7 linked regions of the Homo sapiens genome follow. The protein of the gene in region 5 interacts with the protein of the main gene of each other region in a pairwise test. Each region holds a gene or a part of one and is shown on either strand. Other genes may lie near its edges.

The links.
Region 1: the proteins of PPP1R16A (region 5) and UNKL interact in binary tests that used the Homo sapiens proteins (3 or more experiments, as listed by UniProt).
Region 2: the proteins of PPP1R16A (region 5) and NDUFV2 interact in binary tests that used the Homo sapiens proteins (3 or more experiments, as listed by UniProt).
Region 3: the proteins of PPP1R16A (region 5) and NEK6 interact in binary tests that used the Homo sapiens proteins (3 or more experiments, as listed by UniProt).
Region 4: the proteins of PPP1R16A (region 5) and TTC23 interact in binary tests that used the Homo sapiens proteins (3 or more experiments, as listed by UniProt).
Region 6: the proteins of PPP1R16A (region 5) and CKMT1A interact in binary tests that used the Homo sapiens proteins (3 or more experiments, as listed by UniProt).
Region 7: the proteins of PPP1R16A (region 5) and RGMA interact in a two-hybrid assay, tested with the Homo sapiens proteins (one large-scale study listed by BioGRID and IntAct).

What each region holds. Positions count from the first base shown.
Region 1 is NC_000016.10:1,369,705-1,373,204, reverse strand, and holds part of UNKL (putative E3 ubiquitin-protein ligase UNKL), read left to right. Parts: intron 1-1,593; coding exon 1,594-1,686; intron 1,687-2,847; coding exon 2,848-3,075; exon of another isoform or gene 3,076-3,198; coding exon of another isoform or gene 3,199-3,271; intron 3,272-3,500. UniProt on the Homo sapiens protein: May participate in a protein complex showing an E3 ligase activity regulated by RAC1. Ubiquitination is directed towards itself and possibly other substrates, such as SMARCD2/BAF60b. Intrinsic E3 ligase activity has not been proven.
Region 2 is NC_000018.10:9,105,699-9,109,198, forward strand, and holds part of NDUFV2 (NADH dehydrogenase [ubiquinone] flavoprotein 2, mitochondrial precursor), read left to right. Parts: intron 1-3,500.
Region 3 is NC_000009.12:124,264,449-124,267,948, forward strand, and holds part of NEK6 (serine/threonine-protein kinase Nek6), read left to right. Parts: intron 1-3,500. UniProt on the Homo sapiens protein: Protein kinase which plays an important role in mitotic cell cycle progression. Required for chromosome segregation at metaphase-anaphase transition, robust mitotic spindle formation and cytokinesis.
Region 4 is NC_000015.10:99,155,582-99,159,081, reverse strand, and holds part of TTC23 (tetratricopeptide repeat protein 23), read left to right. Parts: intron 1-2,784; coding exon 2,785-2,934; intron 2,935-3,500. UniProt on the Homo sapiens protein: Participates positively in the ciliary Hedgehog (Hh) signaling.
Region 5 is NC_000008.11:144,498,482-144,501,981, forward strand, and holds part of PPP1R16A (protein phosphatase 1 regulatory subunit 16A), read left to right. Parts: exon of another isoform or gene 1-288; coding exon 289-359; exon of another isoform or gene 360-434; coding exon 435-580; exon of another isoform or gene 581-1,041; intron 1,042-1,614; coding exon 1,615-1,718; intron 1,719-1,785; coding exon 1,786-1,910; intron 1,911-2,005; coding exon 2,006-2,131; intron 2,132-2,204; coding exon 2,205-2,280; intron 2,281-2,360; coding exon 2,361-2,490; intron 2,491-2,647; coding exon 2,648-2,813; intron 2,814-3,038; coding exon 3,039-3,422; 3' UTR 3,423-3,500. UniProt on the Homo sapiens protein: Inhibits protein phosphatase 1 activity toward phosphorylase, myosin light chain and myosin substrates.
Region 6 is NC_000015.10:43,692,647-43,696,658, reverse strand, and holds the start of CKMT1A (creatine kinase U-type, mitochondrial isoform 1 precursor), read right to left. Parts: upstream 2,801-4,012; 5' UTR 2,609-2,800; coding exon 2,460-2,608; intron 2,133-2,459; exon of another isoform or gene 1,949-2,132; coding exon of another isoform or gene 1,856-1,948; coding exon 1,657-1,855; intron 1,454-1,656; coding exon 1,358-1,453; intron 972-1,357; coding exon 750-971; exon of another isoform or gene 749-749; intron 621-748; coding exon 535-620; exon of another isoform or gene 531-534; intron 420-530; coding exon 296-419; intron 1-295. UniProt on the Homo sapiens protein: Reversibly catalyzes the transfer of phosphate between ATP and various phosphogens (e.g. creatine phosphate).
Region 7 is NC_000015.10:93,079,212-93,082,711, reverse strand, and holds part of RGMA (repulsive guidance molecule A isoform 3 precursor), read left to right. Parts: intron 1-3,500.

The sequences.
Region 1 (3,500 bases), on a different chromosome or scaffold from region 5:
TGCTGCTGAGGTCTCTGTGCGGTGTTGGCCGGCAGTCCCTGTGCGGTGTGTTCCATGCTGCTGAGGTCTCTGTGCGGTGTTGGCCGGCAGTCCCTGTGTGGTGTGTTCCATGCTGCTGAGGTCTCTGTGCGGTGTAGGCCGGCAGTCCCTGTGTGGTGTGCTCCACGCTGCTGAGGTCTCTGCGGTGTTGGCCGGCAGTCCCTGTGTGGTGTGCCCCACGCTGCTGAGGTCTCTGTGCGGTGTTGGCCGGCAGTCCCTGTGTGGTGTGCCCCACGCTGCTGAGGTCTCTGTGCGGTGTTGGCCGGCAGTCCCTGTGTGGTGTGCTCCACGCTGCTGAGGTCTCTGTGCAGTGTAGGCCGGCAGTCCCTGTGCGGTGTGCCCCACGCTGCTGAGGTCTCTGTGCGGTGTTGGCCACAACACTGGGCTGGGCTGGGGAGGCGGCGCCGGCCCACAGGGTGTATCCCAGAGCTCCTGCAGCCGCTGCGGTCCTCTGGTCTGCCCCAGGTGGCACGTGGGCTCTCAGATCCCAGATCCTCTGGTCACCCCTCACCCCCAACCCAACTTCTGTGCAGTGGCTGCGGGAGTTTGAGACACGCTGTGGCTTCAGGGGCTGGTGGCCTGAGCTCAGCCTCCTCATGATGGCTTCCTAATTCTAGGAAGGGGCAGTGGGGTCCCTGCTTGCCATTCGGGGTTGGGGGTGGGGACTTGGGAGGGAAGGGCCCGTGCAGGAGGGCAGCCCCACGGCCTGCAGGGATGTGTGGGGACAGCCTTGGAAGGCAGGGCTGGCTGGGTGAGGCCACTCTGAGGCGGGTCCTTCCCACTCAGTCTTGAGCCTTGGGAATTGAGGTCTTGGTGCTTGGCATGAAATTGCACGTGAACACCTGCTCCTTGAAATCACCCTCACAGAAAGTTTTTTTTTTGTTTTTGTTTTTGTTTTTTTTGAGATGGAATCTTGCTCTGTCGTCCAGGCTGGAGGGCAGTGGCACGATCTCGGCTCACTGCAAGCTCCGCCTCTGGGGTTCACACCATTCTTCCGCCTCAGCCTCCCGAGTAGCTGGGACTACAGGCACCCGCCACCACGCCTGGCTAATTTTTTGTATTTTTTTTTTTTTGGTTGAGACGGGGTTTCACCGTGTTAGCCAGGATGGTCTCGATCTCCTGACCTTGTGATCTGCCCACCTCGGCCTCCCAAAGTGCTGGGATTACAGGTGTGAGCCACCGCACCCGGCCCTGGAAAGTTTTTTAAACAGTCGAATGTGCACACGTGGACAGATGCTAACACACACTTAGGTATTTAAACTCTGAGGGGCAGCAGCAGCGTGTCAGAGGCGAGGACCCAGCTGCTGGTCTGTGGTGCGGGGCGTCCCACCTGAGCACGCTCGTTTTGCCGGAGGAACAGCCAAGCCTCACACTGCCTGTGGGGGGCTGCGAGGACGGGCTGGGGGTGTCCTTCCCTGGCTGCCCCAGCAACTCCCACGCCTTCTGCCCTTGGTCTCACTCTAAGCCCAGGTGGGACGGTCGTCCTCCTCAGCTAGGCTTCCTGAGCTCTGCAGCGCTGGGTGGGCTGTGGATGATGGGGGGCTCTGTTGACAGGTTCTGCGTTAGACCTGCATCTTAGCAATGTGAATATTGCATCCCTAGAGAAGGACCTGGAAGAGCAAGACGGCCACGACCTGGGAGCAGCAGGTGAGGGTGGGGAGGACCTGGGGCCCTGCTCCTCCAGCCGCTGAACAGCCAAGTGCTGTGGCCGGAGGATCGCTTGAGCCCGGGGAGGTCAAGGCTGCAGTGAGCTGAGGTTGCACCACTGCACTCCTGCCTGGACCACAGGGCAAGACCCGGTGTCTGGTTTTCGGAGCGGGAGGATCCCCTTCTGGCGGTACCTCCTCCTCCTCTCCCTGACTGCCTCTCCCTTTCCCTCCCCTGCACATGGACTCCTCAGCATCTCTCCTGCCTCGGGCCTGCCCACTTCTTCAGTTGACCTTTGTCCCAGCAAAGTGGCCGCGCAGAGACAGGCGGGGCCTTTCCTGAAAGTCTTGATGGTCCCCGAAGGATAAATGTATTCACATTGTAGACAAAAGATTGACATCCATACAAATGTATCTTTTTTTTTTTTTTTTTTTTTGAGACAGAGCCTCGCTCTGTCGCCCAGGCTGGAGTGCAGTGGCGCGATCTCCGCTCACTGCAAGCTCCACCTCCCGGGTTCACGCCATTCTCCTGCCTCAGCCTCCGGAGTAGCTGGGACTACAGGTGCCCGCCACCACGCCCAGCTAATTTTTTGTATTTTTAATAGAGACGGGGTTTCACCATGTTAGCCAGGATGGTCTCCATCTCCTGACCCCGTGATCTGCCCGCCTTGGCCTCCCAAAGTGCTGGGATTACAGGCGTGAGCCAGTGCGCCCGGCCCCATACAAATGTATCTTAACATCGTATACAACATCTTTTCATTCAGCCTAAAAGTGTATCTTTTCTTTCTTTTAAAAGAAAGTAAACCATTTCAGGGGGCCTGGACAAGTGCTGGGAGGACCGTGCCAATGGCTTAGTTGGCCGGCAGGGCCTGGTGGGTGTCCGGCCTCTTTGGGGGGGGCCCATGTTAAACCCCCGTCTCCCCACCTCTGGTTGGAATCCCTTTGAGCCCATGGCTTGCCCAGCTGTGTTGGACATGGCCACCGGGGGCGCTGTGGCTCCAAACACATAGATGGTGGTGGCTGGCCTGGCCCCTATATTCCCACCCCCCATATCCCCACCACCACCACCTGCAGGGTCCGTCTTCCACGGCTGCCGCCCATGGCAGATGTTTGGGCAGAGGCCTGGCGGTACTCCCTTCGCTGACTGGTCCGCCCCCGCCAGGTCCCAGGTCGCTGGCCGGCTCTGCACCTGTCGCCATCCCCGGCTCCCTGCCCAGAGCACCATCGCTACACTCGCCATCCTCTGCGTCCACCTCGCCGCTCGGTTCGCTGTCCCAGCCCCTCCCAGGGCCGGTGGGCTCCTCAGCCATGACGCCTCCCCAGCAGCCGCCACCCCTGCGTTCAGAGCCGGGCACACTGGGCTCTGCAGCCTCATCCTACAGCCCCCTAGGTGAGTGCCGGCTCCCTCCATGCTGGCGTTGCCGTGAAGCCTCCGTGGGGCTCCCTCCCAGATGCCGTCCTGACTGAGGGGCCTCACACGGAACCTTGTGCCCTATCTGTGGTGGCAAACCACATGACCTGCTGCTCACAGGTTCCCCCACGCCGCAGACCGAGTCTCGCTCTGTCGCCCAGGTTGGACTGCAATGGTACGATCTCGGCTCGCCGCAACCTCCGCCTCCCAGGTTCAAGCAATTCTCCTGCCTCAGCCACCCAAGTAGCTGGGACTACAGGCGGGCGCCACCACGCCCAGCTAGTTTTTGTATTTTTAGTAGAGATGGCGTTTCATCACGCTGGCCGGGCCGGTCTCAAACTCCTGACCTCGTGATCTGCCTGCCTTGGCTTCCCAAAGTGTGGGATGACAGTGAGCCACCGTGC
Region 2 (3,500 bases), on a different chromosome or scaffold from region 5:
GTTATCTGGACTTAATCGAGGAGCATGCTGAATACTTATCATTTTCATACAGTTGTAAAGTTGGGAATTTGCAAGACAGGCAATTGTAAGTCAGCGACCCATCTGTATTGTGTATTTTTTCATTCATCGAGGATATTTTCCTTTATGTCTTTAGGCATGATTATAGCTGTCCTGAAGTTTGTGTCTGGTAATCTTAGTTGATTTTTTTCTTGAAAATGTGTTTTCCTTTTTTGTTTGTTTCCCATATGTTGAACAATTTTGGATTGTATGCTGAATTTTGTGAATGATACGTTGTAGAGGCTCTAGATCCTGTTTTATTCCTCCAAATAGTGTGTTTTGTTGTTGCTATCCATATCCCTTGTGGGCAGCAGATCAAATATTGGTTCCGTTCTTTTAGCTAGGCTCCTTGGAGTCTGCAGCATGTACATGCATGGTTCAGGGTTCAGCCAGAGATTTCCGTAGAATTTATATACAGAATGTATAGGGCTCCCTCCCCCTTTCTGGCTCTTCCTTTTCTAGGATTTCCCACTTTACCATGTCTGTTGTTCCAAACTCTCACTGAGGCCTGCCTTCAGGCTAAAAGATGTGAAGAAAAAACAAAAACCTCATTGGTTTTTTATGAATGTAGACTCCCCTTCTGTGTCTGCCTGTTTGGTTGTTCCCCAGTGCCTTCAGAAAGCTTTTGTTTTTATAAAATATTTTGTCCAGAGTTTATAGTTATTATTCAGTGGTTTGCCCTGACAGTGTCTACTTAGCCATACTAGAAGTATGCCATCTTGTGTGGTGGTACTTTTCCTTCCAAATTTTAAGTTTTGTACAATGAAATGTTTTCCCCATTCCATTAGAGATTCTTAAACTTGATTTTGTAATGTCCCAGTGTATCTCCATTGTGACTCAAAGGACTCTAAAGAAGTTAATGTAGGAAAAACACCCCAAAACATTTAGTTTTTTATTCCTGCTGTAACAAATTTCCACAAAACTTTGTGGCATAAAACATTATATTTTTAACCTTACAGTTCTGTAGGTTAAAAGTGACACAGGTCTCAGTGGGCTAAAATTAAAGTGTAGCCCGAGCTTCATTCCTTTTTGGAGGCTCTAGAGGTGAATGTCTTTTCTTGGCTTTTCCAGCTTCTAGAGGCTGCTCTTGGCCCCTTCTTTCATCTCCAAAGCCAGCAAAGGCAAGTCTAGTTCTTATATCACATCACTTCGACCCTCCTGGCATTCATCACATATCCTTCCTTGCCTCTTGGTAAGAACCCTGTGATTGATGACATTGGGCCCACCTAGATAATCCAGGATAATCTCCCTATTTTAAGGTCGGCTGATTAGCAGCCTTAATTCTCTTTTGTTGTGTAAACTAATACTCACAGGTTTCCAGGATTAGGATGTGGTTATCTTTGAGAGACCATTATTCTGCCTGCCATAGCCATAAATTAGCAGTTTAAGGAGAGAGAGAATGAACAAACTTTAGTTTATGCAGTGAGGTTCAGTAGGCCACTATTGCAAACTGCAGACTCGGATCTTTTTATTAGAGACTTGAACTCAGTTTCCATTTCAAAGTAATAAAAAGTTGACTTTCCTTTCTCTTTGGGCACTGTTTAGTACCTTAGTGCTCAGAACATTGAGTAATAAATTACAGGTCTGTTGCCCATGCTGTATAACCTATTGAGTGACAGTCAGTCTGATTTTCCAATGAGGAACCTTGTCACTAGTTTTTGAATCAGTTCAGGAAGCATGTTATAAATCAGTTGTAGGAAATGTCTTTCATTACAAAACATCAAAGACAGTTTACACACATTTTGGTTAGGGGGAAGGTGGCTTTATCTGTCGGATATTTTGCTAGGTGTTACCCCATTTTATGTGTGAGATATATGAAGATTGCTGGACAAATAAATGCCCAAGATCACACAGTAGTAAGGGCTGGGTTTATTCGCAAGTCCTGTTTTGTTTTGTTTTTAATCTACCTTTCTGAAGTTGCTCAAACAATTGAAGTTGCTAAGGGAAATCACTATGTATGGTGAAGATTTAAATTTAATAGGCACTCTAATAATAAAAGGTGTACCAGTGTAAGCAGACTAGGGAAATGATTTCACTTTGCTTAGGGAAAAGAGATGGAGGTTTAGGGGCTTTAAAGGGGTAGGAGATGGAGGTTTAGGGGCTTTAAAGGGGTAAGAGGAGGAGGTTAACCTTGGTCATGATGGATGAGTGGAAGGTGTAAGTTGAGATAATGCTGTAGGTATAGCTAGCTACATATACAAAGACACTGAAGTGCATGAGGTGAGACTGAACCCCGGGTCCACTGGATGGGCATTTCATTTCTATAAATTATTCTTGTCCTTAGAACAATTGGTTGTTGCTTATATCCATGTGGGATTTTAGATATCTAAAGAATGTTTTCTTTAATATATGGTCAAGATGGCTGGAATCATTAATGCTGTTATCTTAATCTGTAATGCACAGTGCCTGTAATACCTGGGCTCTTCATGCAGCTTTTCTATAATATAAAATTTAGCCAAATTACATTTGTTAATTCTCTCATAGTATGGTAAAAATTACTTACATTTTAACCTGAATTAACATTTTTAGGTAAATTACTGATGGAACTTTATTTGGAGGATGTTTGTAAAAGTCCTCCTATTTCTATCTGAAAATACAGCAAAACTTAAATTTTAGTGGTTAAGGCATGTACTGAAGTCAGGAAAATCTGTATGTGGCATTTCATTTATTTAGCTGTGTGAGCTAGGGAAAGTTTTTCCCCCTTCTTTGAGCCTTAATTTTCTCACCTGTAAAACAAGATAATAATACCTACTTGGTAGGCTTGCTGAGAGGAATAAATGGATTATAGTGTAGATTTGTAGTTTATAGCATGAGATCTGACATAGAGTAAGCATTTGTATTTATGATTATCCTTGAAATAGATTTCACAATTATTAACCCAGCATCAACTTTGTTAAAATAAAATGCACTGAAAAACTTTTGTTTTTCATGGAATTTTTTTTTTTTTTTTTTTGAGACAGAGTCTTACTCTGTTGCCCAGGCTGGAGTTCAGTGGCGTGATTTTGGCTCACTGCAACCTCTGCCTCCCGGGTTCAAGCGATTCTCCTGCCTCAGCCTCCCAAGTAGCTGGGATTAAAGGTGCGTGCCACCACACCCGGCTAATTTTTGTACTTTTAGTAGAGATGGGGTTTCACCATGTTGGCTAGGCTGGTCTCAAACTCCTGACCTCCAGTGATCCACCTGCCTCGGCTCTCAAAGTGCTGGGATTACAGGCATGAGCCACTGCACCCAGCCTCAAGGATTTTTTTTAAATGTAAAATTACCTAGTCTGAATGAATGTATTGCAGACCCTGACTTTTTTAGGAGGTTTCAGTTTTCTTGCTTGAGCTGGCAATAGGGGAGGCTGTAGGTAACAAGTCAGCAGATGTTGTGAACAGTGAGAGGAAGGCACGGAGGGACCTCAGACCACTTTGGATTCACTAGAGATGTTTCATGTGTGCACT
Region 3 (3,500 bases), on a different chromosome or scaffold from region 5:
CTTAGAAATTCAACTTTAGGATTAGAATTCTGCTAAGAGGTACCATGTGACAAAAAAGGTAGTGTAAAAATCACAAAGACCAGGACAGGCTCATGCCTATAATCCCAGCACTTTGAGAGGCCGAGGCGGGCAGATCACTTGAGGTCAGGAGTTTGAGACCAGCCCAGCCAACATGGCAAAACCCCATCGCTACTAAAAATACGAAAAATTAGCTGGGCGTGGTGGTGGACACCTTTAATCCCAGCTACTCGGGAGCCTGAGGAGCCTGAGGCGTGAGAATCACTTGAACCTGGGAGACAGAGGCTGCAGTGAGCTGAGATTGTGCCACTGCACTCCAGCCTAGGCAACAGAGCGAGACTCTGTATCAAAAAAAAAAAAAAAAAAAAAAAAAGAGTTCTGCAAAGAATGGCACCTGGCATCAGAGCTTTCCCTGAAAGGCCACTAAGGATGAGGAACGTGAGCTCCGGGGAGGCGAAGGGGGCAAAGCCACCTGCCTGTTGCCTGTTTTACATAAGGAGGTTTTGCATAGGAGTCATTTTAAGATACATGAAGTAGCCAGAATAGATAAATCCACATAGACCTAAAGCAGATTGGTGGTTTCCAGGGCCTTTGGGGAGGGGAGACTGGGGAGCGACTGATTAAGGGACATGGGTTTTTATTGGGGTGACGCAGACGTTTTGGAACCGGATGAAGGTGGTGGTTGCACAACATTGTGATTGTAATACATCCCATCCAGCGGTTTGCTTTAAAGTGGTTAAATATATCTGAGAAAAATGTTAAACATAAAAGTTTTGGCCAGGCACGGTGGCTCACGCCTGTAATCCCAGCACTTTGGGAGGCCGAGGCAGGCGGATCACGAGCTCAGGAGTTTGAGACCAGCCTGACCAATATGGTGAAACCCCATCTCTACTAAAAATACAAAAATTAGCTGGGCGTGGTGGCGTGTGCCTGTAATCCCAGCTACTCAGGAGGCTGAGGCAGGAGAATCACTTGAACCCAGGAGGCGGAGGTTGCAGTGAGCCGAGATGGCGCCACTGCACTCCAGCTTGGGCAATAGAGTGAGACTCCGTCTCAAAAAAAAAAAGACAAGTTTGTCTTGCTTTAAAAAAAAAAATACCTCTCCTTTTACAGATGGCGACACTGAGGCCCAGAGAGACATCATGACCAGCCTCAGGTCCCACATGCAGCCTGCTGCTCTGTAGCCTAAATCAGATCACTGTCCCAGCTTTCAGGTCAAGGCTCTGGTTGTGACACCTGGGCCTGGACTGCGGGTGAAAAGTTTTGATGCAAAAACACAGACCGTCCATTGTCCTATGGGCTAAGTGGACTCCCTTCTGCTAACCAGAGATGCTTGTGCTGGCTGGTGTGTGGCACGTTATCTCATTCTTTCATGACGTATGTCCGGATGGAAGTCCTGGGTCAGGCATTGTGCTGGGAGCCCACACGAAGACCCTCTAATGGCCCCACCCATTGGCCTCTCACCACCTGGTGGGGACAGAGGCTGTCACAACCCCTTCTTAGGTGCTCTTGATCAATTTGCAGGTGGCATTTTTTGGGATGTAGTCTCTGGGGAAGTAGGAGAGCTTCCGGCAGTGAGGGGTGTTTGAACCCACCTGGAGGGAGACGTGGGGTTTGCCAGAGGGCTGAGAGGGCTGGGGTGAAGGGCAGGTAGACCCCAAGGTGGAGAGGCAGGTGGGGCCGGTGGGTGAGAGGTGGGGCTGTGGAACTTCCTCCTGCTTCTTTGGCCTTTGCTCCTGTCGGTAGATGGCCTTACCAGGCACTTACTGTGGGCCATGTTCTAATCTAACCCTTAACCTGAGGGAACTCACTTCATCCTCCCAGTGATGCCGTGATGTGGGTATCGTTCTGCCCATTTTATAGATGAGGAAACAGAGACCCAGAGAGTCCAGGATCTGTGGTGCTTGACGAGCATCAGCCTGAGTGCTGTGAGGACACCCACAGCATGGGGGTCTGAGCTGAAAATTGGAGGACAGAGGCTGCCCTCCGGAAGTGACCAGGATGTGCCCTCAGGAAGTGACCAGCTGCCCAGCTCAGGACCTGTGTGAGGGCCCCCAGGCAGCTGGAAGGAACAGTGTGCACCCAGGTACCATGCCAGGGCCCCTGAGCATCCGTCTTGTCATCGCATAGTTGTAACCTGCCTCACAGACTGAACATGCACTCTAGAAGGGGATGGGACTTGGTCTGTGGACCACAACAGTGTTCTCCATGGCCAGCATTGTGCCTGACACATAGGAGGAGCTCAATTAATATTTGTTGAGTGAATGGGAAGTTTTAAGTAGGCACGCGGCCGGATCCTTGGAGAATGTTTATATGGAGTGAACGAATCTGTTAGCAAACGTTCCTCACTCCCCTCAGTGGGCTGTGCAGGGCTGTATTGAGCTGAGCTGGCCCTTCCCTGGGAGAAGAGGTTTCTTAGAGAAATGCTCATCCTCGAATTATTCCAATGAGGAGGAACCTAAGCCCAGAAGGGCTCTACCTCCCAGAGTTACAGGCTCTCCTTCCTATGCCCCTTCCCTGCCGAGGCAGCTCCCACATGTCTGCATAGGAGGGCTTTGGGTTGGAATGGGTCAGTGCTGTGTCTTAAAGCTGCATTTTCTACCAAGCACACACTTTGTTTAGAGGGCATATCTTTTGGGGTTGCTTTGAGGAAAGGCTAACCAAGCCACCTCTGAGCACAGACATGACTTTTTGGCAAATGAGCAGGACCCCAGATTACACCCCATCTTAGAAAGTAGGAAACCCAGCATTGAAAGAGGAAAGATTCTGCAGCTGATGTGGCCTTGGCGGGCCACCAGCGTGGGTGCCCAGATGGCAGGATCACTGGGCACCACATGGCACACAGAAGAGAGCAAAGGAGAGGGAGTCCGCCCCTGGGCTTGGCAGGTCCGGTCGAGTCCGCCTGGATTCAGTTACAACAGGACCTCGAGTGGGCACGGCGTGCCGGACTGAGTCAGTGTGTGTACATTTCCTTTGTTCGTCTCCTCCGGGAATGTAGTGGCCTTTTGTGTGTGTTTTAAATGCCAGCCTCCTTACCTAACCCAAGAGGAAATGAGGACTGGGTTTTTGTCTGTGCAGACGCTGGGACAAGTGTGGGAGCCGCCTGCTCTTGGAGCCAGCCTAGTGGTGACAGCGTGGCATTTGGAAAACATTCTGTGGTTTTCTCCAAGGGGTGATGGGCACACCAGGTGCTGGGCCGCCCCTGAGCTGGCCACTGGGACCCTGAAATGAGGAAGCCCTGTGACCAGGTTTCATGATGCCATTCAGCAAGGGACGGCTGAGCACCACATGCCTTCTTGGCCCCTGGGGAAACACACAGGAATCAGATGAGGTCCCTGCCCCGTCTTCCTGGGGAAACATGCAGAGAAAATACTTGTACTCTGAGCTAACACCTTTCACTCGCACAGACCTTTATGGTGTTCTGTGTCTTCAGACATTGATCACCTGTAGGTGAGACACATCATGGCCCCACTTTCCAAACT
Region 4 (3,500 bases), on a different chromosome or scaffold from region 5:
CTGGCTCTTTTCATTCTAGGGCCACTGCCAGCCCATCCAATGCCCTTATCATAATAGAAAAAGCTGCCCCTTCCTCAGGTAGATACCGCCCATGTTGGAGAGGACCATAGGCTGGATTTCAGCCCTCCCCATGCTCCTGCCAGGCACCCTTGTGTGTGGCACCACCTGCCCAGCCAAACATGGCAGTCTCATGCTGTTCTCACCATTTGGTTGCAAACCTCTCACTGTGGGTTCTAGCAGGTGTTGGCCAACAAGGGCCGGGCCCAGGGACAGTCCCGGAGCCAAGAATGGGGCTGTGCTCAGGCCATCCCAGGTGTTCCCACAGCACATGGCCATGGGCACTGTGGAACATGATATTTGAGGGATGAAATGCCTTTTAAGGTAAAATGTAAGTGAAGGTCACTCTGCCACAGGTTAAGCTACTCCGTGAGGGTTTGTCTTCTAGTTGTGCCACTCTTTTGCTCAAGAATCTTCTGTGACTTCCTCAGCCTGGCCACTCACTGGCCCTCAACAGGCCATGTGTTCCTCCTGTGCTCCCAGTGGCCCATACCCTCTTCTCATCCCACCTAAGTCCTCTTTACTCTTCACTCCTCTCTCTTAAGCTTTTCCTAGCAGAGGTTGATACTATCTCAGTTTCCTAGAAACCCGTGCCATTTAACTTCCTTCACATCTCCCCGTTTCCGCAGTCAGGCTGTAGGCGGCATCCAAAGCTTTATCTGGGAAAGGGAGTCTCCCCGGGTCTTCTCCCCATCACTGGCTCCTCTAAGTCTGACAGTGATATTTTCCCACAGAAATATCACCAAACCCAGCACTCTCAGCAGTCCAAGTCCTTGCTCTCAGAACTTGGGAGATGTGATGGGCTTTACCCTCAGGCAAGTCTAGATTTAAATTCTAGTCCCTCATGTACCTCAGTGGGGCCTCACTGCTGAGTTACACAATCACTCTGCCTCTACAGAGATTCCTCTTTCACCTGAGAAATTTATTTCTGCCTCATCAGCACCTGTAATGTGGTTCCCCTACCCCGGCCCTATCCCCTAACTTGTATTATTGCCAACAAAAGGATTAAACGCCCTCCTTGTCCTTCTGTTTGTGGAGCACTTTTGGGACCCCTTTGGGGCTGTGTCATGAGGAAGCTCCCATGGTCCCTGCTGTATTTGCCAGTTAAATTCAGCATCCATGCTCTGCAGCTGATGTCGTGCCTTCATGTGGAAGATCGTGGAAGAATTTCTGGAGAAAGTATGGAGGATTGACATACTTTAACAGGGTTTCCCCCTGCATATTTTGGTGTCTGAAGAAGCTAATATCAGGAAATACTATGTCCTGACCAATTCATAATTTTTATTCCATGTTAGTATAAATAAATTGGATAAACCAAACAAAATGTCATGTCATGTTGGAATGTTTACTTTCAGTTTCCTAAACGATTTCCTATGAGAATAGCCAAGCCTGGAGTGTGTTCAGGATGTTCTATACATAGATAATTTGCCCAGGAATGCTATATTTTCACTTCTGTAAGAATAGCATTGTGGACAGAGGGAGAAAAGCATGGGACTAAAATGTATGAAAATTAGACTGGGCATTGTGGCTCGCGCCTGTAATCCCAGCACTTTGGGATGCCAAGGTGGGTGGATCACTTGAGGTCAGGAGTTCAAGACCAGTCTGGCCAACATGGTGAAACCCTGTCTCTACTAAAAATACAAAAATTAGCTGGGTATGGTGGTGGGCGCCTGCAATCCCAGCTACTTGGGAGGATGAGGCAGGAGAATCGCTTGAACCTGGGAGGCAGAGGTTGCAGAGAGCTGAGATCATGCCACTGCACTCCAGGCTGGTAGACAAAGAGAGACTCTGTCTAAAAAAAAAAAAAAAAAAACCTCCAGATTTCCACCTGCTGTTGTAAAATGGAAGATCTGCTGAGACGGTGAGACGGATTTAAAAAAAAAAAAAAAAAAAGGTATGAAGATCACTGGCTGGATTCAGATCCTAGCACCACCACAGCTGAGCCCTCTGACTCTGAGCAAGTTTCTTAACTGCCGTGCCTGTTTCCTCCTCTGCCTAATGAGGATTAAAATTTTACCCATCTAAAGAAGACAGCAAAAATTAAATGAGACCCACACAATTGTGTGTGTTCAGCACAATTAGTGACATGTGAGGACTGATCCATGTCAGCTTTTGTTCTTACTACTCAACTGAAATGGATTCCTGTAATGGCTGAGTGGGTTTATTTTGCCAGGTGTCCTCTCTCTTCATAGTTTACACCTTTCCTCACATTCGTGTTGTTTCCTGACTCTTGTTCAACCAGAGGTGATATGATTTGGCTGTGTCCCCACCCAAATCTCGTCTTGAATTATAGTTCCTATAATACCCATGTGTCATGGTAGGGACCCTGTGGGAGGTGATTGAACCATGGGTGCGGTTACCCCCATGCCGTTCTTGCGATAGTGACTGAATTCTCACAAGATCTGATGGTTTTATAAGGGGCTTTGCCCCCTTTGCTCAGCACTTATCTCTCCTGCTGCCCTATGAAAGAGGTGCCCTCTGCCATGATTGTAAGTTTTCTGAGGCCTCCCCACCCATGTGGAACTGTGAGTCAATTAAACTTCTTGGCTTTATAAATTACCCAGTCTCAGGTATCTCTTCATAGCAGCATGAGAATGGACTAATACAAGAGGAGAACAGGCTCAGCTCGTGAGACTACCACACCCATGTGAAAATGTTACAAGTTGCGTAATGATCCTAATCAGCCTTTGAGCTTGTTAACCAGATAGCTTTTTGTTCCTTTCACAGAGAGCAACCTCGATCCTGAGAGAGTCCCTGGAAGCCAAAGTGGAAGCATTTGGCGATTTCAGTCCCGAGGTGGCAGAGACATACCGGCTCCTGGGAGGAGCAGACCTGGCGCAGGGGAACCACAGTGGGGCCCGCAAGAAACTGAAGAAGGTAAAGCTGGAACCAGTACTAACACGAGACTAGGCTCTCCCTCCCCTCTCCAAGGTCAATTTCTCTCCCTTGTGGTGGTTCTTTTAAATGAAACTTTAGAAGTGGCTTGTTTAGATAGGATGACATCACTTTTGTGGTAGATCTAACCTGATACTTTTTGGGTAAAAGACATAGTAAGCCTCTTAGACATACATATTTTTTAAATGAATTATCAGTTTTTACTATGCAAATATTTTTAATTTTTTACGTAGTACAATTGATCAGTCCTTTATGTTTGCGGTGCTCTCTCTATACTGAGTTTATAGAGGAATTCTCTTACACTTTCTTCAATTGTCATTCTTCTTTAAATTTGGAGTTTATTTGTGTGGATGGCATGAGGAATGGATCTAATCTTACCTTTTTTCCAAATGGCCACCCAGTTGTCCAGCACCATTTAATTAGAGAGCCCATCTATGCTCCAGTGACTTCAGATAACACCTTCATCATATACTGATTTTCCTTATGGACTTAAGTCTATTTCTAGATTTCTCTTCTCTTCCACTAGTCTTTCTGTTTATTCATGTGTC
Region 5 (3,500 bases):
GTTGGAGTGCTGCTCTCACACAGGAGCACGGCCTGTTCTGGGGGTCGGAGGGCTGGAGCACCACCATGAAGGGCCTGCAGGTGGGTGGAGGCAGAGGGCTTCTGGGAGTGTGACCGGCCTGGGCCAGACAGATGCCTGGTGCTTCTGCCCCCACCCCTGGGCTCTGGTGTGCCTCCTGCCATCGGCACCACTGTCTTCCTTGTCCTTCCCTGGGTCCTGGGCCGAAGCACAGTTGACAGGACCTGACCAGGGGCAGGACCCTGTCCTCACCTCGCCACCTTTTTGCAGTCCGCCAGTTCCTTGGGAGTGGGGTCAGCCCTGACTTGGCCAACGAGGACGGCCTGACGGCCCTGCACCAGGTCAGCCTGCACTGGGTGTGGGCAGGGTGGGGGCTGGCCCCCGTGCTCTGGTCGCTCACGTGGCACGGTTTGCAGTGCTGCATTGATGATTTCCGAGAGATGGTGCAGCAGCTCCTGGAGGCTGGGGCCAACATCAATGCCTGTGACAGTGAGTGCTGGACGCCTCTGCATGCTGCGGCCACCTGCGGCCACCTGCACCTGGTGGAGCTGCTCATCGCCAGGTAGGGCCTGTTGGGCGTCCTTGGCAGGGAGAGGCTTCCTCTCAGATGGCCGCTCAGGAGGCTCCTCTTGGGCAGTATCTGTGGCTCTCGGCCTCCTGTGTTCCCGCCTTCACCTTTGCTGACCCTGCCTGTGTCCTGGCATGGAGAGCAGGGCCTGGGGCTCCAGGGGAATGGGCATGTGCCCAGGGCAGCGCGGTCCCTGCCTCCCCAGCATTCGTCCTCCTGCCGAGAGGGCAGGCCTCGGGCCCCCCCCCAGAGTGTGCACAGAGAAATGTCTTGGTCAGTGAGGAGGGCAGAACTGCTAAGGAGGGAAGCAGAGTGAGGAGGCCAGGTGGCTTGGGAGGAGAGGGTACCTGAGCACAGGTAGGGCCTTTACCTTTAACACAGAGGGACGTAGAGCGGGGGGAACTCTGAGCAGGGAGGGTCCATGAGCCTCCTCCCTTCCCCTTTGCTCCAGGCATCTGTAGTGGGAGAGAGGTCAGGGCTGCGGTCATTCTCGAGTGCCCCTGTGAGGCCGGGTGGGGTGTGCATGGCGGTCGCGTCACACACAGGCGCTGCGGGGCAGGCGGGGATGTGGGGTGTCCACAGGTAGGCCTGCTCCTCCACTGCACACAGACACCCCCTTCTGTGTTCTGGGCTCCCCTTCACCGCCCTTCTTCCCTGGGGCCATGCTCCCCACAGCTCAGCAGCCCCTCAGCGTGGCTGCCTGGTCCTGCACCCCCGCCACCCTGTGCTCCCTGCTCCCCAGCAGGCAGGCCCATCCAATGCATGTTTATGGGGGCACCGCTGCCCCTGGAGGTGCCAGGAACCTGGATCCCTGGATGGATAGAGACTGCAGGAGGCCTGTCTGGCTTAATGACAGGATCTAGGACAGCCGATGGGCCCCAAGGCTGCCTCTCCCAGCAGCAGGTGGACAGGGTGCCTCCTGAGGGGCAGCCCTGGGCTGAGGGGCCCTGGCGGGGACTTCTCCAAGTGAGGAGCCTGGCAAGCGGGGAAGGGCCTTGTGCCCAGCACCCCGTCCGTCTTCCCTGCAGTGGCGCCAATCTCCTGGCGGTCAACACCGACGGGAACATGCCCTATGACCTGTGTGATGATGAGCAGACGCTGGACTGCCTGGAGACTGCCATGGCCGACCGTGGTAGGTGCGGCGGTGCGGCTGTGGGAGGGCTGCCGGTCGCGCTCCCTCTGAGCCTGCCGCCTCGCAGGCATCACCCAGGACAGCATCGAGGCCGCCCGGGCCGTGCCAGAACTGCGCATGCTGGACGACATCCGGAGCCGGCTGCAGGCCGGGGCAGACCTCCATGCCCCCCTGGACCACGGGGCCACGCTGGTGAGGGCTGGGGGGTGAGGGGCACACGGGGCTGGGGGCCTCGCTACTTGGAGGTGGGGGATGGGGCCGAATTCAGGCCGGGCGCTTGCCTGCAGCTGCACGTCGCAGCCGCCAACGGGTTCAGCGAGGCGGCTGCCCTGCTGCTGGAACACCGAGCCAGCCTGAGCGCTAAGGACCAAGACGGCTGGGAGCCGCTGCACGCCGCGGCCTACTGGGGCCAGGTGAGTGCGGGCGGGAGCAGGTGGGAGGGGGCTTCCAGCGCAGCAGTCTGCAGCTCCGGCCTGCCGTCCACAGGTGCCCCTGGTGGAGCTGCTCGTGGCGCACGGGGCCGACCTGAACGCAAAGTCCCTGATGGACGAGACGCCCCTTGGTGAGCTTGCGGGGCCCACCTCCACCTGGGGGAGAGGACAGGCGGGGAGGGCGCCCCTGACGCCTGCGCCCACTTCTCAGATGTGTGCGGGGACGAGGAGGTGCGGGCCAAGCTGCTGGAGCTGAAGCACAAGCACGACGCCCTCCTGCGCGCCCAGAGCCGCCAGCGCTCCTTGCTGCGCCGCCGCACCTCCAGCGCCGGCAGCCGCGGGTGAGCGCCGCCCCCAGCAGGCCCCGCCCCGGGCTTGGCCCCGCGGACGTCAGCCCCGGGCGGAGTGCCAGCCGAACTGGGGGCAGAGTCCGAGGGGGTGGGCGGGGTCCTCCGGGCACTCCCCTTCCCCTCACTCCCTCTCCTCTCTCCTCCCCAGGAAGGTGGTGAGGCGGGTGAGCCTAACCCAGCGCACCGACCTGTACCGCAAGCAGCACGCCCAGGAGGCCATCGTGTGGCAACAGCCGCCGCCCACCAGCCCGGAGCCGCCCGAGGACAACGATGACCGCCAGACAGGCGCAGAGCTCAGGCCGCCGCCCCCGGAGGTGAGCGCCCCGTCCCTGCTCCGCCCAGCGCAGGGGTGGGCCTGGCTCTGCCCTGGTTCTCTCTCCGCTTGGACCCCCTCCTGCCTGTGTCAGGAATGGTGCCCTGCAGGGGCCAGCTTTTGCCCCATCTCTCCTGTCTGTCCCTTCATGACCATACAGCCTGAACCCAAGGCCAGGGAGGGGGGAGGAGCCTCCTGATGGCTCTGGGACCTTCACTGCCCGCAGGAGGACAACCCCGAAGTGGTCAGGCCGCACAATGGCCGAGTAGGGGGCTCCCCAGTGCGGCATCTATACTCCAAGCGACTAGACCGGAGTGTCTCCTACCAGCTGAGCCCCCTGGACAGCACCACCCCCCACACCCTGGTCCACGACAAGGCCCACCACACCCTGGCTGACCTGAAGCGCCAGCGAGCTGCTGCCAAGCTGCAGCGACCCCCACCTGAGGGGCCCGAGAGCCCTGAGACAGCTGAGCCTGGCCTGCCTGGTGACACGGTGACCCCCCAGCCTGACTGTGGCTTCAGGGCAGGCGGGGACCCACCCCTGCTCAAGCTCACAGCCCCGGCGGTGGAGGCTCCCGTGGAGAGGAGGCCGTGCTGCCTGCTCATGTGAGGCTGTTGCTCAGCATGCAGGGGCCCTGTCGCGGGCACAGCCCAAGGCTGCCTCCCCACGGTGCGTGCCCTGGTGCTG
Region 6 (4,012 bases), on a different chromosome or scaffold from region 5:
CACACATCCCAGGCACTGACGTGCCATCTCAGTTATTCCTTCTTTGCATTACCTGCCTTCTTCACTTTCTAAGGTTCCTGACACTCTTTTCCTAATCTTAGTGTGACCACATGTCCTGGTTTTCCCAGTATGGTCCCAGCTGGTTTATACCTTTAGTCCTAGAGTGAGTCCTAGGTAGTCCTTTTTACCATCAGACATGTCTTGGGTTGGTTGATAAATTACATAATCTATTTATGCTACTCTTTGGTTTTCCTTATGTCCTCCCACCTAGCTCCCCTACACAATCTTCTCTAACCTCTTTGAGGCCTCGGCAGAATCTTTCAAACACTCTCTTCATGTTACCACCCTTCTCCATGGAGATCACCCGTGTATGATCCTCCTCATTCACCCAGATCAGGAAGCTCTTCTCATTGTTGTGCCTGAGGGCCGGAGAGGGACAGTGATCAAGAGGCAAGGCAAGAATTGGGAGAGATAGAGGGAAAAAAAGCATTTATGAGGGCATGAAGACAAAAGAGGTAATGAGCAGCTTCATACCAAATTCCACGAGCATCTGGCCAGTCTCGAGCCATTCCTGCTGCAGTCAGCAACGGGGACACAGGCTTATCAAACAGAAAGTGGTCCTGGGAAGAGTAACGGGACTTGGGTTAAGAATCTTCATGGTGGCCCCTGGGCCTTTCAGAGCCCATGTCTCATCTGGCCCAGCCTTCCCCATCTGCTCCCACCAACCAGCACCCTCTTAAGGCCCTCACATCAATAAGCTGCTGCTGTTCAGCCTCTGTCATCTCACTGAGCCTATAGTAACGTCCAGCCAGGTCACCCTTCAGGCCACTCAGTGCATCCACCACAACACGTTCCACCTCTCGTCGCTCTGCTCGAGTGCAAGCTGGAGGCAGACTGAGTCCTCGGATGCTTCGGCCAGTTCTGACTCTAGAGGACAATACATACCTCTCATCAAAGTAGCCAGAACGGATCTGGGAGATAAGGGAAATGAATGTAAGTCACAGAAACACGGTGGGAACTGAGGGCCCCTGGGAAAGGAGAGACCTTCCTTAGGCATTAGAGGACTCTTTGTGCATTCTTCCTGCATGCATTGGAAGAAGAGGCCCTTTGGGAAAGCACTGGAATTGAAGGGGGCATTGCAGACCTTTCCCCAAACCACCCACCTTGGGTCATGGTCATTCTTATCTATCCTTCCATCTCCATATATGCTGCCCCTTAAGATATGATTCTTTCCTTACATTAAGATTAAAAGCTCAGCTGTATAATGACCATGAGTCAGGAAATAAGGTGAAGGGGTTGGAGATACAGAGTGTTGTACACAGGCAATGCAAATCAGAAGTGGGATATTTGAACTCACTTTACTGGCATCTAGATCCGTGGTGTGCTTCATTGTCCGGGGGTCATATCCATTGTGTCGCTCTTGGATCACAGGGTCAAACAGGTCAGCAAATACCTAAGGGGAGTTAAGAGGGAGAGATGGTTAAGGAGAGGGAATCCCTCCCCAGACTTCAATTGTGCATTGATTTCACTGGTTCAGAAAACTTAAGTATGGGGGGCTCAGAGTCTTGGGGGAAAGTGAGAGGTCTTTAGGGGAAAGGAGCTGGGATTACTGGGAAGATGAATTGGATCATCAGGGAGACTCTGGGGACCCCCTACCTCATAGGTCTCCTCATCTCCAGCCACCATGCCCACAGTCTTGATGAAGGGGTGGCCAGGGTTGTCCACGCCAGTCTGGATACACTGATCTAGCGTCCAACCAGTGGGTGTGGTCTTGTCGCAGAGCCGTGCATAGACTGCTGGGGTCAGGTGACTGGCCATGCAGTTGTTGTGCTTTCGGAGGTCTGGGTACTCAGCGCTGGGGAGGGGGTACCCAGTAACCATGGAGGGAGGGCACAGACGCCTAGACCTAGTGCAGTTACCTGGGAGCTGTCCAGTTGGCCATGTCTGGCTTTGCTCCGCGGGAGGAGGGGGAATTAGAAAGAGGGTAAACCTTGGTAATCTCTTTAGGGACTTTCAGAGTCTATGCTTTCCTAATAGTTCTAGTTGCCTCTGGCTGGCCAGCTCAGTTTCTTCAGATCTGCTCAGTTCTTTCCTCCCATGACACAACACTACGGATGGAGGAGGGGAAAAGCCTAAGGAGAGGAATTGAGGAAATGAGGGAAGGAGATGGAGGGGAGCGAAAAGGATAGTTCCTGGCTTTACAATTAGGGATTTGGGCAGCCAGTGCAGCTAGAACTCGTAGGGCCAGAGCTGGTCTTGGCAGGTCCCCAGGAATGTTCTTGCTTTATGGTTTTGGCCCCCACCCCCACCCCACTGAGGTCTGCAGACTGCACAGCCCTCCAGCTCCAGGGCCTTCGTGATTATAGCCCTTCTCTGTTGCCCGGATTCTCACTTCTACCCGCACCTTCGTTCCCATCACCTCCTGCCCCCGCCTCCTCCCGCGCCTCAGGCACTGTTACCTCGGGGGATACAGCCTCCGTCGTTCACTGGCAGCTCGTACAGGTTCCGGTCGGAGCAGAAACCCAGCGGCTAGAGACCCCGCTCCGGCCAAAGCCAGGAGCCTGAGTCCCGGGCGGGCGGACAGCAGACGGGAGAAGGGACCAGCCATGGCTTGAGGTCTGGCTACGGGATCCTGGAGTAGGCGCTGGCGCAAGATAAGATCCGGAACAGGGAGGGAGGATGCAACCGGATAGACCGAGGGCCGGAGCTAGGTCCGAGGCTGCAGCCGAAATGGGGGTCGGATTGGAGGCTGGAGCCGGAATGGGAGCCGGTGCCAATCAGACTGCAGGAGAGGCGCAATGAGCTAGTGGCAGGCGGGCGGGCGGAGGAGAGGGAGGCCCCAGCCGCAGTCTCCAGGGGTGGGGCTCCCCCAGGCCCCGCCTTCCCGCCTGCCACCGCGCTAGGTGCGCGAGGGCAGGGGTGGGCAGCACCCGCCAGGTAATTAGCGGGACCTGAGACTCGCGCGTCTAAAGCCGGGGATGTAGCCCCCTCCCGCCCCGGGGATGTGGCCGCCCAGATTTCAGCACCAAGTGGAGGACAGCACCCACGTGGACTAGCTGAACCCAACACCCTTCCCCCACACCCCTCGGTTTAAGCTGAAACTCGATCCGTCTACCCTGTGGGTGTGCAAGGGTGACACTGCCCAACCTTTCCTCTGCTTTCGGCCTGCCCCAGCCACCTCTTCGGTCTCCCGGGGGCAGCCGCGGGGAAACCGCGGAATAAACACAGATACCAGAGGAGGATATGGAGAAAGCACAGGGTTAGAGGCAGGCACTGGGAAAGACACCCACTGGCTCAAGGTCACCTTTTCCTTAGAACCAGGAAGAGGAGCAAGGTGCTTCCTTGCCACCTCTGTGCACGCCTTACAAAGTTGAGAAAGGACTCCCTGGGAGGAACCAAGGAAATATTAATTCTTATGCCATCTGTGCTGTGTCCTCCACCTCCATTCTGCACCCAAGTCTGAAGCCCTGTTATTTCCTGCCTCTGCTTCTCATGATCCCCCACTTTTTGTTTTCCTTTTGTCTCTCCCACTTTCCTCCACGTCCCCTACCTCACCTTTGATCTTTTACTTCTCTGCGTCTTTTCCAGGCTCAGATGTGTTTGCTGCTCACAGGATGCCCTCTGCGTTTTCTCGGCAAGCTTGCCCACCTGTTGGTGGTGCTGGGTGTGGGGGTGGGCAGGGAATCGTTAGTTTCCTCCTCCTCCTCTCCCTTGGCTTCTCTCTCCGTAGTTCCTAGTTCCTGTGCTGGAGGAGAAGGTAAAGTGAGGTGAAGGGTGTGGTGAGATGACTGGGTGTGGGACTGGAACAGGCAGGCACAGGTCTCCAGACACCACATGTGTTTCCTCTCTTGTCTCCCTAATGCTGTTTAATCCAGAGAGTAAAGGCGAGTGGTGTACAAAGGCATGAGGTGGTCAGGGAATCTCTGCCTTCCTCGTGGTCCCCTCTGCTGCTCTCTCTCTCCTCGTGAAACACATATTCAGATTTGAGAGGGCTTTGTTTCCCAGCTCCAGG
Region 7 (3,500 bases), on a different chromosome or scaffold from region 5:
ACGGAAATTTTTCTCTTCTTAAAAAGTTTTTATATTTTTTGTTAATGTCTGGAAAACAGTATATCTCTAAACATATTCCCCTTTCTAATGCATGAGCCGTCATTCTACATGTGGGGCATATTATTGGACTGACAGAAATAAATAAACCATGGGTGAAGATGAGAAGCAGCTGTAGTTTGGTGGGAAAAACACTGCACTTGGCATCTCAAGACCTGGGTTTGAGCCTCTGCACGGCTGCTTGTATTTATGGTCCTTAGACAAGACTTAGAAATGAGTCTGTCTCGTTTGTGAAATGGAAATGGCTGTGCCCGTGGCATAGTTAAGATGACGACGCTGGTTACATGGGGGAGTTTTTTCTAGTAGGTGCCCATCAGGCCTCAAGTATAACTGAAAATGAACTTAAAACCCACCTAGAAGTCAAGGTTATCCGTGAGTCCTTGCAGAACTCTGCAGAGCTCTCCCAAGATCCTGTACATACAAAGGCTGTAGCTGAATCTGGCACATAGTAGGCACTATTGTAGTCCAAACAATAGTTCCTGTCCATGATATAAAATGAATATTGGCAACTACTTATCAAGACTTACTCTATGCCAGGCATCTGTTCTAAGTGGTTATGATTGTATTGACTCATTTAATCCTCACAACAATCTTTTGATAGATCTGCAAATATATCCCTATCTTACGGATGAAATAACTGAGCTCTAGAGAGTCTGTGTTCGGACTGCATGTTCTTAGCCCAGCATGCTATATTGCCTCTGTAATATAAAAGTGAAGAAATTCCCTTAGCCTTGACAAATTTAAGAAAGAAAAACAATGGTGGAAGTGAATGTCACATAAGGTGACACATTTGTTCTTCTTTCTGGATTGGCACTTTTCCCCACCTCCCATCAGCTGGGGATTGTCTCTATTTCAGCTTTGCTTAGCCATTCTAAACAGTTTTGAATTTGATGAACAACTTGGTTATCTGTTCTTATTGCTAAATGTCTATGGTATTTGTGCTTGGCACTAAATTATTCATTAATCCAAATACTCCAGCCTTCTGTTGGTTGAGAGAGAGACAGACTCACTGTCGGTTCAGACAGTTGCCATTTGGTGGATAAATGGTTCCAAGACAGTTCTTCTCCCAAGAACTTACCGGAATGGGGAGACATAAGCGCTGTGTGGTCTGTTCTCTTTTACGGGAACCTGGTGTGTCTTGTGTATGCATACCCAAAAGCTGCTTTCAAACTTCAGGCGGTTGCTGAATGTTTCTAAGGTATGGTTTCAGGTATACTATAGTATTGTTGGGCATTATTACTGAATTTCATGGTGACATCAAAACATAAGAAATGTCACTCTTCAAATGACATTTCCTACGTGCTTGGCCACATTTTAACTTGGGGACTGCAGAAGTGTTACAGATGAGGCCTCAGAATGGCTCCCCACAATCAGGTGTGGGCAAGGCTGGTTAGTTACAGAGCCAGTATCTATTCACCGGATCCCTGGAAACAGGACTCTGGAGGTTGGAGATCTCCTGGGGCAGCCAGGCTGTGATTCTGCAGATTGAGAAGCTGAGGGGCTGAAGATAGGACAGGGCGTGGTGCCACACAGCTGGAGTTAGGACCACCCCAAATCCCAGGTCTCTGTCTTTCCCCATATTCAGTGGCAGTGTCTTGAAGCTTTCCATCTCAACACTGACAATTAAGCAATTCATAAATACTATTGCTTTTGTACTGGGTTTTGCAGGCAGAAGAATTTGCAAACTTGGAGACCAGATAGTAGGTGTGATAGGAAGTCTCAGACAAGAGTTTTAAGAAGAAAGCGGTGGTCGGGGGGAGACTTTCATTAAGAAAGTGTAGTTATACCCCAGTTTATAGTCCCAGTAAAAAGAAATGGGAGAAGTAGGGAGAAAAGAAACACGGCTGCTCCAAGAGGTTACTGAGAATATGGGAAGTCGAGAAGGACAGGTGTGAAAGAAGGAAAGAGGGTCATACATCCAAATACCACGGAAGGGTGGCCATGGAAACTGCTGGCCAACCAGCAGGAAGGCCCCAGCCCAGCCCAGCCTGAACTGAGCCTGGGGCAGCAGAGGTCAAAGGGAGCACAGAGGGAGTCGTTGCTTCTGTTCAGAGCAAGAGGATGGAGTAGGGTTAGTAGAGGCAGAGAGAAAACGAAAAGCCCCGTGCCTGGGGAGCAGCTGTGATCTCATCAGAGGTGGCCTGGCAGCTGGGAGTCACCCAGAGCTGCCCAAACCTCACTCTGTCACCAAGCCTGCTGGGTGACCTCAAGCAGGTTACTTACCTTCTGCAGTGTAAGTTTGGGTGAATGTGCCAAAAACCCCATCTCCACAAAAAATACCAAAGAATGACCCAGGCGTGGTGGCGTGTGCACCTGTGGTCCCAGCTACTCGGGAGGCTGAGGAGGAAGGATCGCTTGAACCCAGGAGGTTGAGGCAGCAGTGAGCCATGATTGTGCCATGCTACTCCAGCCTGGGCGACAGAGCAAGACTTTGTCTCAAAAAAATAAAATTAAAAACCCATTAAAATTTTGGAATAAAATCCAATACTTGGCAATATTTGGTAATTTTTTAATTAAAAATTTTAGTTTAATTTTTAAATGAAAACTTTTAATTTTGGTAAAATTTTTAAATTTTTGGTAGTTTTTTCTTCTTGGTAATTATGTCTTAATTACCAAGAATAAGAGTCTCTGGTGGTGAGGGAAGGAGCATCAAAGCTCAGGTGATATTCTTTACACAGAGAGAAAGGAAGCCTCAGATAATGAAGATGGCAGCAACATCCTCGTAGCCAAAATGTACAACTGTCCTTTCATGTGGCACCTGTGTCCACAGGCATGCACCCTGTACCTCCCGCCCACAAGGGGAGTCCACCCTACCTGAGAAGCGTCCTTTTTTTTTTGAGACAGAGTCTCTCCGTTGCCCATGCTGGAGTGCAGTGGCAGGACCTCTGCTCACTGCAACCTCCGCCTACTGGGTTCAAGTGATTCTCTTGCCTCAGCCTCCGAAGTAGCTGGGGTTACAGGTGCCCACTGCCATGCCTGGCTAATTATTGTATTTTTAGTAAAAATGGGGTTTCACCACATTGGCCAGGCTGGTCTCAAACTCCTGACCTCAGGTAATCGGCCCGCCTCGGCCTCCCAAAGTGCCGGGATTACAGGTGTGAGCCACTGCACCTGGTCAGAAGGGTCATTTTAAATAGCCACTTTTGCAGAATATATACTAAAAAAGTATTATTATGAAGCACACTTTATAAAGTCTTAACTAGCTGAACGAAGCACAATGTGTTCTCTAAAAAGAACATGAAACCCAACCAATCTATTAGCATTCTTTAAGGAGTCAGAAACAGGCCTGGAGACGAGGGAGAAACCCAGGATGAATTCTGTTTAGACTTTCAAAATTCCTTCTGACAAAGTTCCATCCCAAAGGTCATTTACAATAGTAAGTCTCTCCAGCATGTGCGGGGAAATTGCCGTGGATCAGAATTATCCTTAGAGACAAGAAATAA